3 separate regions of the Homo sapiens genome follow, and all the other regions are linked to region 2. The links come from fine-mapping of genetic effects on gene expression. Tissue or cell type: whole blood. Region 2 holds a variant in brackets; each other region holds the start of a gene. All regions are shown on one strand. Distances are between the middles of the regions.

Region 1 (5,148 bases), 130 kb after region 2:
TCCCATCACCTAAGTATTAAGCCTAGCATGCATTAGCTATTTTTCCTGATGCTCTCTCTCCCCCTCTGTCTCCCCACCTCCCACCAGGCCCCAGTGTGTGTTGTTGCCCTCCCTGTGTCCATGTGTTCTCATTGTTCGTCTCCCGCTTATAAGTGAGAACATGTGGTGTTTGGTTTTCTGTTCCTGTGTTAGTTTGCTGAAGATAATGGCTTCCAGCTCCATCCATGTCCCTGCAAAGTACATGATCTCATTATTTTTTATGGATGCATAGTATTCCATGGTGTATATGTATCACATTTTCTTTGTCCAGTCTATAATGGGCCTTTGGGTTGATTCTACATCTTTGCCATTGTGAGTAGTGCTGCAGTGAACATATGTGTGCATGTATCTTCATAAGACAATAATTTGTATTTCTTTGGGTGTATACTCAGTAATGGTATTGCTGGGTCAAATGATATTTCTGGTTCTAGGTCTTTGAGTAATTGTCACACTGTCTTCCACAGTAGTTGAACTAATTTACATTCCCATCAATGTGTGAAAACGTTCCTATTTGTCTGCAGCCTCTCTAGCATCTGTTGTTTCTTGACTTTTTATAACAGCCATTCTGACTTGCGTGAGATGGTATTTCATTGGCTTTGATTTGCATCTCTCTAATGATCTATGATGTTGAGCTTTTTTCATATGTTTGTTGGCCACATAAATGTCTTCCTTTGAGAAGTGTCTGTTCATGTCCTTTGTCCGCTTTTTAATGGGATTGTCTTTTCTTGTAAATTTAAAACAGAAATTTTTACAGGTGACAAAACAACCTGGAACGTTTGTTACCTGTCCAAAGGTAAATTGTGGACCCAGGGTCAAATTCCAGAGGTCCTGTACTTTGCAGTTCTCTGTCTTAGAAGTGCTGCTGTTGCCCATGAAGTAGTGCAAATTAGGAAAAGAAGACACTTTGGGCTACACAATTAAAAAGGTTTTTTCCTCTGACTTAGGGAACAGGCTTGCCAAGCAGAGAGCAGGCTGGACTTTAGACCTCAAGGCCCCATCCTCCCGCATCCTGTAGGAAACCATCTGTGGCAACCCAGGAGCTCCCCCTTTCTCCATCTCTGTCCCTCTCTTTCACTCCCCACCCCCGCATCCTTCCTTCTCTTCTCCCACTCTCTACTTTATTGGCCTAGACTCCTTTTCCTATGAGTCTTACATGTTCCAACGAGGCTGTCTGGGCGGTCTGGCTTTCAGGAGGCGATTTATTGTTGTGCTACTATCCCTATGAAATTTTGCTTCGCTGGGGCTCAAGGAGATTAAAGACCCCCAAGGCCCACTCAGCACCACCCTGCTGCGGTCCTCTTCCTCGTTGGTGAGGTGTTCGTGCCCACTTTGGGGGCCCATCTGCACCTGTCGCCCTCCCTGCCTTCCGGGCTGCTGCTGCTCGGAGCGTTCAACCACAAGGCTGAAAGCACAGCCTGTTACGGAGTTGTCTTCACAACGCGATAACGTGAACATTTCACATGTCTGAGAGATAACTTTAGTATTTTGTCCAAATTTTTGAAATAATGGAGTTTGGGAAGTATTTTATCTTAGACTCTTAGCATTCCTAGGCTGATCCACTGCCTGGTGAACTCGTGGTTTCCCCGTTGCCTCGGTTACCGTAAAAATAGCAATGATTCTGGACACTTGGCTGGGCTTCTTCCAAATCCACTGAGCCGCGCCTGGGGCCCCAGCCTGCCCCACTGAGAGTCCTAGCTCGGTCCTCGGGCCCGGCCACGCCCGCTGCCGGCCAGCGACCGAGTCGGACCCAATCCGAGGCCCTGCGTTCTTGCCACCCAACACGTAGGCTGATCCTGGCGTGCGCTGCGTGTTCTTTCCTCTTATGTCCTATTCCTTTCTGTTAATAAGAATATGAGCTCAGGTAGACAAAATTAAACAGTCAAGTTTCCAAACACGATGAGGTCACTTTAAGAATTCAAAGGATGTGAGGCACCTGCCCGGGGGAGGTGGGGGGACGTCCCCTCTGCTCCCCCTCCCCGGAAATGCCTGCGTCCAGCAGTGACCTCGGGGATCTGGGGCTGAGCGAGTGGGGGTTCAGAGCCTGCTCGCCCCAGCGTCCTCCAGGCGGTTGGCAGCGCCGCCGGAAGGTGAGGGGGGGCGGGGACGGCACCGGGCAGGAGGTGAGGGCCGGGACCCCGGACGCGAGGTGAGGGCGGGCGCTGGCACCCGGAGAGCGGCCAGGGAGGCGGGCCCGGGCGGGAGTGAGGAGGCGGGGACGGGCGGGGACGAGCGGGGATGCGGGGACGCGGCCAGGGCCGGGGCACCGGGCGGGGGCGGGGGCGGTGCCAGTCGGTGTGGGCGATGAGGTCGGGAGGGGCGGGAACTGGGGAGTTTCGCCAATCGGTGCAGACTCCGGTTCTCCCCAACCCCGGGCCTGGGCAGCTGGGCACTGGGGCGCCGTTCCCCACCCGGCGCGGACTTCGGAACCGGCCCTGGGACTGACTGGCTCTACCACTCGAGCGCGTCTCCGCTGGACCCGGAACCCCGGTCGGTCCATTCCCCGCGAAGATGCGCGCCCTGGCGGCCCTGAGCGCGCCCCCGAACGAGCGGCTCCTTCCCCGGGACCCCGCGGCTACCCGGGACCCCGACGCCGCGCGGCCGGCGCGCAGGAGCGCAGTGGAGAGGCTGGCGGCGGATCGCGCCAAGTATGTGCGGGGTCGGCCGGGGACTGGCCGGGGCGTCGCTTCCGAGGGCAGCGGCCCGGGGGCGATCAAGTGCCCGGGGAACGACCCTGGGCCCCCGGCCCGCGCCCCGGCCCCGGTGGCGCGCAGGGCTATTGCGCGGAAGCCGTTGAGACCGGACTCGCTGATCATCTACCGGCAGAAATGCGAATTCGTGCGAGGATCGGGCGCCGACGGCCCCAGGGCAAGCCTGGTGAAGAAGCTCTTCCAGGGGCCGGGTAAGGACAAGGCGCCGGTGCCCCGGACGGGAGACGAGGGCAAGGCCGGGAACCCGGAGACGGTCCCGACCACTCCTGGCCCCGCGGCGGACCCCGCAATCCCCGAGACCCCAGCCCCAGCCGCGCGGTCCGCGGCGCCCTCCAGTGTCCCGGCCGCGCCCCCTGGGCCAGAGCCGCGGGTGGTGAGGCGTCGGGGGCTGCAGCGCTCACAGTCGGACCTCAGCTCCCGCTATTCCGCTGCCTTGGCCGAGTCTGACACCTTCTTCCAGTACTGCGGCCTGGACCCCGAGGTGGTGGAGGCCCTGGGGAGGGAGAACTTCACCGCGGGGTCGGACTGTGTGACCCTCAAGGTGCGCAGCGTGAGCGTCGCCACCTCCGGCAGCGGCTTCTCCCGGCACAGCGGCGGCGACGACGAGGGGCTGCAGGAGGAGGAGCTGATAGAGCAGGTGCCCAGCACCACTTCGGTCATCGAGAGGAACGCCCGCATCATCAAGTGGCTGTACACCTGTAAGAAGGCCAAGGAGACCCCCAGCCAGGAGCAGAGCCGGACCCGAGGTGTGTGCCCAGAAGGCTGGGGGCGGGGCTGGCCGTGTGCGGGGCTGTGAATCTTGGTGAGTGTGACCGAGCTGGGCGATGGCCAGTTACAGCTGCTTAGAATTGAGTGCGATTTTGAGCTACAGTGTGAAAGGGACCCAAGAGACTGACGCAGAGGCTTGTGAGTTGAGCCCCCGCTGCTGAAGAGCAGAAGGTACCAATCCAGGCACCTGCTGGTCCAGGCCCTTAGGAGTCTGCTGCGTCTGGCTGCCTGGAAAGGCAATTCTGCAAATTAATATGTCCCATTTGGCTTATTATTGTGAAAACAGGAGAAATCCAAAATGCTGCCAGAAAGCAGTTTTACACCCCTAGTATTCTTTCCTGAGCTGAAAACAGCTTGAGAGCCCTAGTTCCTGAGTTCATTGACCTGTGCTGTGGGCGGTCCTGATGTTTGATTGGAGCTGACCAGTCCACCTGCAGCCCTAGGTAGGCGCTGCTGTGTTACTGGAACAGAAAGGAAGACTCCCTGCACTTTCCTGGAGGCCTGTGCTGAAGTGGTGAGAACTTCTCCACAGGATCTTGTAGCACTTTGGCATTCACTTAGCAACAAAGATCTTTATTTGGCTAAATTTTATTTAAATTGTTTTGAGAGCTTCAGGTTTTTAAACTGGGGAAATTGGACTAGATTGTAACTAGAGTCTATAGTTTATTTGCCTCTGATGACACTACAGGAAGTAACCTCCCTTTGGACAACCAGTAGTGCCGGATTGACCTCGAGCTCTTTTTGCTTTTCACTGGGGAACTGAGGAGTGCTGGTCTTCACTGTTACCTGCTCTTCCCTATGGGCGTCTTGGAAAGTAGTGAAGAGAAAGAACCTTTTCAGGGCTGTCTTTGAGAACGAACAATTTAAACTTTGCGACATCTTTTTTTTCCTCTTACCCTTCAATGACAACTTGCTATAAGTAAATTTTAAAAATCATGAGATGAAATTATTTTCTGCCATTGTGATAAACTAAGTGAAGATGCATGGCAGCCTGTAGAGTTTGGGGGAGGCTGCCCAAGAGATGTTTGCACAGGGCTCACCTATGTTTGACAGCTAAAAATATCTCCAATAATTTCTCTGGCTATGACTTTAGTACAGACATGAAAATTAATGAGAAGAAGATAATTCATTCTTTTTCTTGAACTCAGAAGGCTCAGGACTTAAGTTCTTCCTTATAATTTATAGAAGATTTGTGTTTTCCACTAGCCTAAGTTCCCAACAAATATATATAGGCAAAGTTCTAAAAAGCAAACAAACATTAATTTGTAGTTTTCACAAATTGTCTTTTGGATCTGAGATGAATGAATGCTGGCAAGGGTATTTCCATGATGGCACCATGTGTAGGGCAGGAGCTTTGGAGAGTGGCCAGGTCCGTGGAGGGACAGTGTCTGGTGGATAGAGCACTAAACCAGAATTAAGGGCCTGTCTTATGTTAGCAAATGATTCCTGCACTATAGACCAGGCGTCCTTTGTCCATAAAAAGAAGGGAGATAGGCGGATGGTTTTCAACCTCTACATTTTCTAGTCTGTGTAGTAATAATCTGTGTTGCATGACTGAAACCCAGAAATGGAAAACAAACAAAAAAAAGTTGTCTATTGAAGTACGTGAGAAGTAAATTTATGAATAAGCTCC
Region 2 (5,148 bases):
ACTGCTCTGAACCTTAACACTTCTGAAACGGCTGGATGTCTCTGCATGAGCTGTGCTTACCCAGTTGTTCCATTTATTCTTATATTTTACAAGCATTTAGTAAATTCTTGAGCTAGGCCCTGGGGACTACCAAAGGAATAAGATATCTGTTATTTTTATTTTATTTTATTTCAATAGTTCTGGGGAACAGGTGGTTTTGGTTACTTGCGTAGGTTCTTTAGTGATGGTTTCTGAGATTTTGGTGCACCCATCACCCAAACAGTGTACACTGTACCCAATGTGTAGTCTCTTATCCCTCACCCCCTCTCACCTTTCCCCCTAAGTCTCCAAAGTCCATTTTATCATTCTTATGCCTTCGAATCCTCATAGCTTAGGTCCCACCTATAAGTGAGAACATATAGTATTTGCTTTTCCATTTCTGAGTTACTTCACTAGAATAATGGTCTGCAACTCCATCCAGGTTGCTGCAAATGCCATTATTTTTTTACTTTTTATGGCTGAGTAGTATTCCATGGTGTGTGTGTGTGTGTGTGTGTGTGTGTGTGTGTGTATACATATATATATATAATATATATAATATTTTATTTATTCACTCGTTGGTTGATGGGCATTTAGTCTGGTTCCATATTTTTGTAATTGTGAATTTTGCTGCTATAAACATGTGTGTGCAAGAAGACATCTGTTCTTAAATTGCTCTCAATTTAGTTAGGAATACTTAAAATGGCTACACTGCAGGATAGAAAGTGTGCACAAATGATCACCTTTTAAATAGATGCATGAGAAGAAAGAACTCTGAAACGCAGTGATAAGTATGGTTCAGTGGAGCCCTCAGGACCTATCTCAGTGTGTTCCTCTAGCATCTCTTCTAGTTTCCTCATGCACTCTACTTTCTAGCTGCACCTGCATTATGCTTAGCACCTGTCCTATTCCCTCCTTTACTCTGAACCCCAGGTTCCCCTGTGTTTTCATGAGCACCTGTCCTATTCCCTCCTGCACTCTGCTCTCTAGCTGCCCCTGTGTTCTCCTTAGCCCCTGACCTACTCCCTTCTGCACTCTGCTCTCCAGCTCCACCTGCATGTTCCTTAGCACCTGGCCTATTCCCTCTTGCACTCTGTGTTCCAGCTCCACCTGCATGTTCCTTAGCACCTGTCCTATTTCCTCCTTCACTCTGCTCTCCAGCAGCACCTGTGCACCCACAGGTGGCTTTCCAGCTGTGCCTCCTGCCTATGCCCTGAGGAGCTCAGCACCCAAGAGTGAATGGATCAAATTACTGACTCCTTTTTGGTGTCGATCATCATTCTAGGCTCTTCATACACAACGTAAAAGGCAACACATTGCTACCTTTATTCAACTAGAAGGAAATTAAACTTCATAAAAGTTATACCCAGAGACCTAGTGCATGGAAAAGGGGTTTGTGCAATTCTTTCCACTGCTGCTTTTTATACTCAGTGCCCTATTCCTCCCTGAAAGAAATTCTGTTCCAAAATGCTGCAGTCACTGAGATTCTTCACTTTCTTTTCTCTCTCTCTTATTTATTTGGCCTATTTTTTATTTTTTTATTTTTTTGAGACAGAGTCTCATTCTGTCACCCAGGCTGGAATGTGGTGGCTCAATCTTGGCTCACTGCAACCTCCACCTTCCAGGTTCAAGCAATTCTGCCTGAGCCTCCCAAGCAGCTGGTACTGCAGGCAAGCACCACTACGCCAAGCTAATTTTTGTATTTTTAGCAGAGATGGTTTCACTGTGTTTCCCAAGCTGCTCTCAAACTCCTGACATCAAGTGATCCACCTGCCTCAACCTCCCAAAGTGCTGGGATTACAGACATGAGCTACCATGCCCAACCTTCACTTTCTTCTCTGAGTCAGAGATCTCTAGCAAGATAGCCTTTTCACAATTTTTATTGCAATAGAAGTATTTGAGACCTTTGTCAGGTTAAACTGTTGTGAGTTAAAGGTATGTCTGTTTTTCTGAGATACACTGAATTTAGGAATGTATGACTCAGTAATGAAAACTTGATCTGGCATCACCCTAGGCATTTGAGCTCCCAGACAGAGAAGGATCTGTTTTTCCAATCACTGACAAAGCCTGGCATGATCATGGTTCGCAGGAATGCAGCACCCCAAGAGGACCCTAGCAATTGGGAGAATTTTGTTTATATGACACTAAGCCCCAAATGACCTTAAATTCTAAATAAAAGTTCCATGGGCAATTTGTATAAGGGCCTTGTTTTTAAAGAAAATAAATTATATGACAGGTTTGTTATATATATATTACAAACTATACTGGTGAACATTTTACTCAACATTTAAAAATCTTTAATTAAGACCTTTCAGTACATAAAGCTTACATAACAAAGTCTAGCAAAAGTCTATAAAATCTAAACACATTTCTAAAAGAAAGGGTGGTGCCACGAAAGTTTACATGCTGAGGCTTTCAGGGTGGCTATGCTGTGTTGGATGTGGGTGGTG[T/G]TCTCTCTCTCGTGGTTTTGCTTCTTATGTGACAGTTCCGGCTCACGAGAGCTCTCTGGGCCCGTCTGTTGGCTTGCATCCTGTGGCGTTTGGCAAGTGAGATCTGTTTAATACAAAGTGTCAATAAAGCCAAGGTTATGATAGTTAAAAATAATCGATACTAATTCCCTAGAAATTTTGTCTTTTTTACCAAGCCACTGGTGCAATGTGGAGTCACTACATTTTATGCAAGAAGAATAACACCCTCACTCCACAGTCTGAACCAGAACTGACACTCGGTGGTGATTCCCCCTTTATTCTAGGAGGTGTTAACATTAGCTATGGCAATGTAAAACCGATGTTTTTGGAAGCAGTAGGGGCAGGGAATGGAAAATCCTCTGCAGCTGTCAACATGGGGAGTGAGACAATGCTCGTGTTGACTTGTGGAACTGGATGAGAATCTACTGCTCCTTCTCTAGTGACAGTCTCTGTCATTTGCATAGAAGGTTAAACGCAGGGAGGGCACGGGGGTTCCATGTAAACTTCAGTAAGTTGCATAAACAGAGGCGGCGATGTTTTATGTCTCTGATCTTTTCCAAGGACATCTGGCCTCTGGGTTGCAGCGCAATGCTCACTAACAGAAGCTGACTCATTTGTGTTATGTCTCTGATCTTTTCCAAGGACATCTGGCCCCTGGGTTGCAGCGTGATGCTCACTAACAGAAGCTGACTCAGTTGTGTTTTCTGGTTTTGGGGAATATCTTTAATCACCACATGAATGTTTATAAACTGTTGGGGCTAAACATGAAACTCACTCTTCAGGTGCCGTCTCCACCTAGCCACCGTGTACATTTTCTTTCTCTCTCTTGCAGCTGTTCTCTTCCTACGGACTGAATGAAAAATAAAAGGAAGTCATTTCTGCATGTGTCACAGAGGCATCCTTTGGTTCTAAAGGAAGCTAAGTTGGATTCCACAAGCCCATGGTCCTTATAGCATGTGAATAGGATTCAGTCACGGACGAGAAGGAAGAGGTTCAGGAGAGACTGTAATCGCCCTGTCCAGGCTAACCCTCCAGCTGTGCAGGTGACAAGCTTGCCTGTGTTTGTGTTGTGTAAGTGTGTGCGGTACAGCTGCTAATGTAGTGTCCGGAAACATCTTACAAAGTAAGCCTTCCCCTACATGTAGTTTTATGTGGGTATAAATTCATTTCAGTTCTTGACATGAACATTTGTACAGTGCTTCCAAGTGAGGCTTTGACTGCCTCACATCTGGAATCCTTCAAGTTTATCCTTCTTGGAGTCAGTGTCGTGAACGTTTTTCCCCCAGGTCAAGAGTCTGCTGTCAACATGATGTTCTCTAATTACATGGCTTTGTACAACTCCCAGCTCTGTGGACATATGTTTTTGTATTTAAGGCATTCCTTCTTTTACCTCTGTTTATAGATCATCCTTGACTCTGCTCTTTTCCCACTGCCTTTATCTCAGGTCCTTCCCAAGGTTTTGTGCTGGCTGACTTCTTTTAAGTAATGGAAGAAGAGGACGTGGGGTCAGTCAGCCCAGCTTCTGATCCCTTCTCCACCCATTACTTGGCAAATTAAAGCTGTGTTTAGGCTTCATTTGTTTCGTCCTGGATTTCTCAAGAGTTACAATTTTTAGATATATTAATTACAATTATAGAGTTGTTTAAAGATCAAACAAGGCAATGTATATTGATGTGTTTTGTAATCTTTAAAACTCAATAGAAATGTAAGATCTTGCTATTACTATATAATTGTAAAATCTTCCATTTCTTGCTTTTTCTTTGGTTGCTGGCCTAGAAATTGAATCAATTCTCTTCTCTTTTTATTTTTTAAAAAATAATCTTGAGCATATGAAATTGCTGATATTTTAATATATTGCTAATGTTTGATCTATTCAAATGGTAGCTTCCTGTGGTTTCTTCTAATAGTTAAAACTATGTCAGGTCAGGCATGGTGGCTCATGCCTACAATCCCAGCACTTTGGGAGATCAAGGCAGGCAGATCACCTGAGGTCAGGATTTCAAGACACGCCTGGCCAACATGGTGAAACCCCGTCTTTACTTAAAATACAAAAGTTGGCAGGAGAATCACTTGAACCCAAGAGACAGAGGTTGCAGTGAGCCAAGATCACACCACTGTACTCCAGCCTGGGTAACAGATTGAGACTCCGCCAAAAAAAAAAAAAATATATATATATATATGTGTGTGTGTGTGTGTGTGTGTGTGTCTGTGTGTGTGTGTGTGTGTGTGTATATGTATATATATATATATATATATATATATATATATATCAAAGTGATATATTTGTATAGTGAAACCCCAGACACTACCACTAAGTGAATGATGATATAAAACTCTTATTTCTTATTTTGCTACAATGTTAGGTTCTCAACAATCATTCTGCCTCCCAGTTTACCTTGGTCTTTTTTCCCATTGGGATTGGTTTCCCTGAAATGTCTGGTGATTCTTCATTGTTCACATTTAATAGTGACACATGAAGAAGGAGAATGAGTCTGTGTTATCATTAGTGAAAGGCTCATCTAGAGGTGATTCTTCACTGTTCACATTTAATAGTGACACATGAAGAAGGAGAATGAGTCTGTGTTATCATTAGTGAAAGGCTCATCTAGAGGTGATTCTTCACTGTTCACATTTAATAGTGACACATGAAGAAGGAGAATGA
Region 3 (5,148 bases), 88 kb before region 2:
AAGAGTAGTGAAGCTAGCAATTCAGATACGGCAAAGAGAAGCCATAAGCACTACCCTTAAGTAAAAAGGTGAAAGTTTTTGACTTCTTATGGAAAGAAAAAAAAAACTTATACCGAGGTTACTAAGATCTACAGTACGAACAAATCTTCTATCCATGAAAATGTAAACAAGGAAAAAGAAATTCCTGATCGTCTGCTGTCTTGCCTCAAACTGCAAAAGTTGCGACCACAGTTTTAAATGCTTAGTTAAGGTGGCAACGGTATTACATTTGTGGGTGTAAGAAACGAGCAGACACATGTTCCAATTGACAGCAATTGGGTTTGGTACTACCCACAGTTTCGGGATCCACTGGGGAGTCTTGGAATGTATCCCCTACAGCTAAAGTGGGACTACTGTATATGCAAGGATACACTTCCCCATTAACAGCAACCATGATGCATTATGCCAGCATAATCGACAATACCAACCAAAACTATACAAGGGAATGGAATATTATTTAGTAACCATCCTTAACCAAACTACTGTTTAATAAACTTATTGATTTCATCATTCAGCCTTCAATGAGTCTTAAAAATCAAATGATGCCCACTACCAATGTGAAACAAGGTAAGCCTTCTAATTCGTCTTTCACAGAAGTTAACTTCTACAAAACCTAGTCAGCGTTTATCATATATTGTCCTAAAGCTGAAAACAAAATGAAAAATAAGCCACAGTTATTGCCATCGACAAAATTAAACTCAGCTGGGATTTCAACAGACTATCAAATAATTATAGTAAAATTTGTGTAATAAAAGATGTCGATAAGGAATCACACCTTTTCTGTATTACATCTTTTACTATATTACACAAATTATAGTAAAATTTGTGTAATAAAAGATGTCGATAAGGAAGCAACTCATGATCTGGGAAAGCAAAGGAGGAAATATTTAGGTTTGACTTTATAAAATAAAAAGGCTTTCCAGGCAAAATGCATAATGGGCACCCAGCGATGAAGGCTCAGTAAGCATGTGAAGTGCTACCGAACAACGAAAGGTTCTGGAAGGCAGTGTCCCGAGGGTGTGAGCAGGAAAAGGTACAGGAGATAAAGTGAGGAGTCTGTAAAAATAAACAGAAACTGCAGGAAATGCAAACTCACAGAAGGTTTTAAGTAACCGGACTACTGACAATTTAGGCCTTCCTCTCAGGGTGGAGGCACCGAGGAATATAACCTTGTAGTGCTACACCAAAGGAAGATCCCTGAAGACCAAACGGAAAATAAATTATGTTTGAAGTAAGGCAAGCTAAGTGTTGAAATTCTAGGAGTGAAAATAATTTAAGCTGGAAAGTTCCTGAAAAGCCATTAATAAAATACACTTTCATTTTTCATGGGCCAAAGTTATATAGGGACCTCCAGGTCTCCTTTGCTTGGCTTTTACAATCAAGAAACCCGAAACCGTAAAACTTCATCTCCCTTTAACTCAGATCCCTATCTAAGCATGGGCTAAGGAAACTAGCAAACAAAACAATGTTGTCATAGGACTCAGGAGGCCCCTAAGAGACCACATCAGTCCGACAACCTCCAGGCCTACCTGGGCCCATTGGAGGGGAACGAGAGGGATTCTAGTAGTCGCAAAGAAAGTACCTTGGCTTGTAGGGGCTGTGGCTGCAGATGCCAAGAGCCCCGGATATATGGCAGGCGCGAGGGGACCCAGGTTTAGCGGGCAGGCTGGGCGGGTGCACGGGGCGGATGGGGAACAGGGGCGCTGCGGCACACTCCTAGAACACCCTAGGCCTCCCAGTCCCTGGCCTCCTCCCCCTCATGGTTCCTAGGCCGGCGGCACAACCTACAGCGCACAAGCCCGATCCAACTCTCCAGAGGACGTCAGAACATGAGTAAGTCGGCGCCCTCTTACCCAGACACACAAACAGCACGGACTTGGTAGCCTGTTCCGCCATCTTCCCGCGCGCAGAGGCGCCGAGACACCGCGGCGTTCCGCACGCCGACGCGGCGCAGGCGCACTGCCACCCTCTTGCCCCGCGCGCCTGCGCAGTCCCGCACCAACGCCAACAGGGCAGCGCGTGTGAGAGCCACGCCTGCGCAATCGGCTCCAGTGCGCCTGCGGAGGCGGTCCTATGACGGTAGTAGGACGGGCGGGGAGGGTCCGCGGGTCACCTGCAGGGACTGGGCCGCCGTTCACCTGCAGGGGCGGGGCTGCAGGTTGTCCGGAGGAGGAGGAGCTGCGGGGGTGGGGTCACCTGGAGGGAGTAGGGCCGCGGAAGGCGAGGGGGTGTGTGTGTGTGGTGGCGGGGGTTGGCGGGGGGGAGTCACCTGGAGGGGGCGGGGCTGCGGGTCGCTTGGAGGGGAAGGAGCCGCGGGAGGTAAAGGTTACCTATAGGGGACGGGGCCGCAGGAGAGGGGTACCTGGAGGAGGAAGGGCCGCGGGTCACCTGCAGGGCGGGCTCAGGCCTCGCGGCTCCGCGGGCCGCCCACCTGGGTTGGGGCACAGCGCGAGTCTCGCGCACGTGGCGGGCTGTGGTGCCTGTCGTTCGAGTTCGCATAGAGGGGCTGGGCGGGTCACGCGGGGAACCTGCCTTGAGCCCCGCGGGGTCCACGCCGGACCAGGGCGGCCTTGGGCCTGGGCGCTCCCTGAGACCCCCACCCCCAACACCGTGCTTGGAGCCGCCGCGGGGCTCTGGGCTTTTCGATCTTGAGGACGGGGCGGTTCCGAAGTCCCTGAGGGCGAAGGCCTGAGCGCGGCCCGGCGGGCGCGTGGTTTTTGTCCCGCGAAACGTACACGGCGGGTGTTTTGCGCCGCCTCCTTCGTCACCTGCCGCAGGTACGCCCTCGCTGGGGCCTCCTTGTCCGCGGGGCGGGGCAGCGCGCCTTCCTCTTCCTGGGCAGCCTCGGGACGGGGCGCCGCGGCCGGGCGGGCAGCAGTGAGTACCCGGGGACCCACCTGTCCGGCAGCACCCTCCCCTCTCAAGAGCTGGGCGGTGGTGGGAGGAGGAGGACGGGAAAACCGGCGATGCCTCTGGGGTTTCTAGGTCGCGCGTCTGTTAACCGCAAACCGCCCAAAGTTAAGATAGAGCAGCTTCCAGGACTTTCTTGACCACAGCGATTTTGATTGAAGTTTAGCCACCGTCTTTTCCATTTTTAGAAAAGCTATTCCGAAGTTTGGAATGATGACGATGGTCGTGTTATTTTTAACTTCCTGATATTTGAACGGCGAGGTGTCAGCGACCATCCTTCCGTTCCACAGAAGCGTCTCTGAAGTTTGGGTCGAATGCGCGCGCTTGGAATGTGCGTGGAACCCGCGGCAGGCGCGGGGAGGAGGCCTTGGCTAGGGCGCCGGCGAGGTTCGAGTTTGCCAGCCCCCCAACCTGGAAGAGAAGGGCCAGCCCCTCACACCCGGAAGGGAAGGGCCGGTCCCCCCAACACCTGGCGCCGGGGTCGCGGGGCCACAGGGCGAGCGCGGGGTCGCGGCGAGCACGGGTCCTCTCTGATCGCTGGGCCTTGGCGCTGGCTGCTGAGTTTTTCCTTCTTTAAGGAAGTGTGGAACTGGTCTCAATCGGTTGACCACCTTAAGGAAATAGGATTTACACTGTGGACAGAGATGTGTCCTTTACACTTCATTTGAACCAATATGCCCATGCTCCTGTGGAGGCTGAGTTGGAAAGTGACACGAAGCTGCCCCCCCGCAAGAGAGCAGGTGCTCGGTTTCTCTTCTGCTTACAGGAGATGCATGTCCTGATTTCTTGTTCTCCTAGGTGTTTTTATTGAGATGTAGGGAATATCTGAATTCATAACGACTTAGAAAATCTGTACACACAGTTGAGAGAACAGGTCTCGAGGCTAAGGTGCTGTTTACTCCCGTGGGCTGGCCTGTTATTAAAATACTTGTGCAGCGACTGATGTTTACAAATTACTATGTTGGAGGTTAAAATGATCAAAGTGATAACCTCCATCCTGTCTATCATGTTTGAGGAGAATTGGTTATTTGGTTCACTAATGTTCTGTTTAAAGAAAATTTCTGTAAAACTAGTAAATGTTACCCCTCATCTTTTGTAAGTTAAAAAAAAGTTTAAAATAATGTTTGCTCATCAAAAGTGATTTGATACTTTTGTTCTGTTTAGGAAAACTTTATTCTCAAGAGATTTCTCATTCCGCAGAAATAAGGATCTGGCATGTCAACACAAACATAGGAAGTTGAGGCAGTCAAAGGGAAATAACTGCTACCCTGACTCTGCTGAGAGCCTCACAAGTCCCTGTGCACGCCAGCTTGTTTGCCAGTGAGTGGCGTCATGATAAGACAAAATTCTCTGCTCTGAGACCTAAGCACATGAAGTTTTTAAAAAAATTTTCTCTGAGAAGATCCCATTTTTTACTCTAAAAGATCAGACCAGTGTGGCATGTGTGGAACTGCTCTGTACCAAGATCACACTCTTCAGTTGGAGAAGAGGAAGGGCAGGAATAAATAAAGGGCTTTCCTGTCTCCCGAGGGAGCAGAGAAAGCTTTCGCTGTCCTCTTCCTTCCCCAGCCACAGCCTGGGGTTGGGGGACTGGAAACAAGCTCAGGCTAGCACTTGATGTTCAGACGGTAGTCTGAAAGTTTGACTAGGGAGTTAATGATCTGACCAGAGAGACAGGTTTTTATTTTGAGAACTGACAAGCTTTGTGTCCTTAAAACAAAGGAAGTAGTTAAACCAAGGCCCCAGAAAGGTAAGAATTGACTTAAGAAACAAAGGCCATAGTTGTCAAGCAGTGGAGTTCAAAATGCAGTTTTGTTAATAAAAGTAGCTTAAAGCAACATTTGAAAGCCTCTCTAAAGATTAGATACATACACTTTCTTTTGGCTAAGATTTCTTTAGTTTATTCTAAATATACCTTTAGCAGCATTCAAGTTCCTTTGATCTTAGATGGAATTTTATCAGTTTAATGAGTTAACCTCCATTTCACATAAAGTATAAGGTTTAATAATTTGATTAATATGTAATCAGTAAGAACTTGGAAAACCAAATTTAGTAAGCTTGCTTTCCTGTAAGTATTCCTTTCATAATTAGAGTCCATTGAAGAAAATAATATAAGGGAAGCAAAAGTTTGGGAATCTGAACTCTGGTAAGGAAAGTGGTGGAGAGGGGCCCTTGGGTCTTCTTGCTTTCATTCCTGAC

The links. PIP is the estimated chance that this variant, and not a neighbour inherited with it, causes the effect.
Region 1: FAM110C starts here. The variant in region 2 is fine-mapped to the expression of FAM110C in whole blood (TOPMed, PIP above 0.99).
Region 3: it holds the start of SH3YL1, and the variant in region 2 is fine-mapped to the expression of SH3YL1 in whole blood (TOPMed, PIP above 0.99).

The regions. Positions count from the first base shown.
Region 1 is chr2:43,785-48,932 of GRCh38, reverse strand. FAM110C (family with sequence similarity 110 member C) reads left to right here and starts at 2,428. Exons shown (of 2, transcript NM_001077710.3): 1 at 2,428-3,493. The coding sequence starts at 2,548.
Region 2 is chr2:173,939-179,086 of GRCh38, reverse strand. It overlaps LOC105373324 (a long non-coding RNA gene), which reads left to right. Exons shown (of 4, transcript XR_922689.3): 2 at 3,319-3,529. Among named protein-coding and RNA genes, the nearest start is that of SH3YL1, 88 kb to the left of the region's middle. The variant T/G (reference allele first, on the strand shown) is at 2,469.
Region 3 is chr2:261,752-266,899 of GRCh38, reverse strand. It overlaps SH3YL1 (SH3 and SYLF domain containing 1), which reads left to right and starts at 2,868. Exons shown (of 10, transcript NM_015677.4): 1 at 2,868-2,916. The coding sequence starts at 2,916. ACP1 (acid phosphatase 1) reads right to left here and starts at 1,953. Exons shown (of 6, transcript NM_004300.4): 1 at 1,893-1,953. The coding sequence starts at 1,935. RefSeq lists an enhancer at 1,843-1,892 and silencers at 2,243-2,322, 2,393-2,972.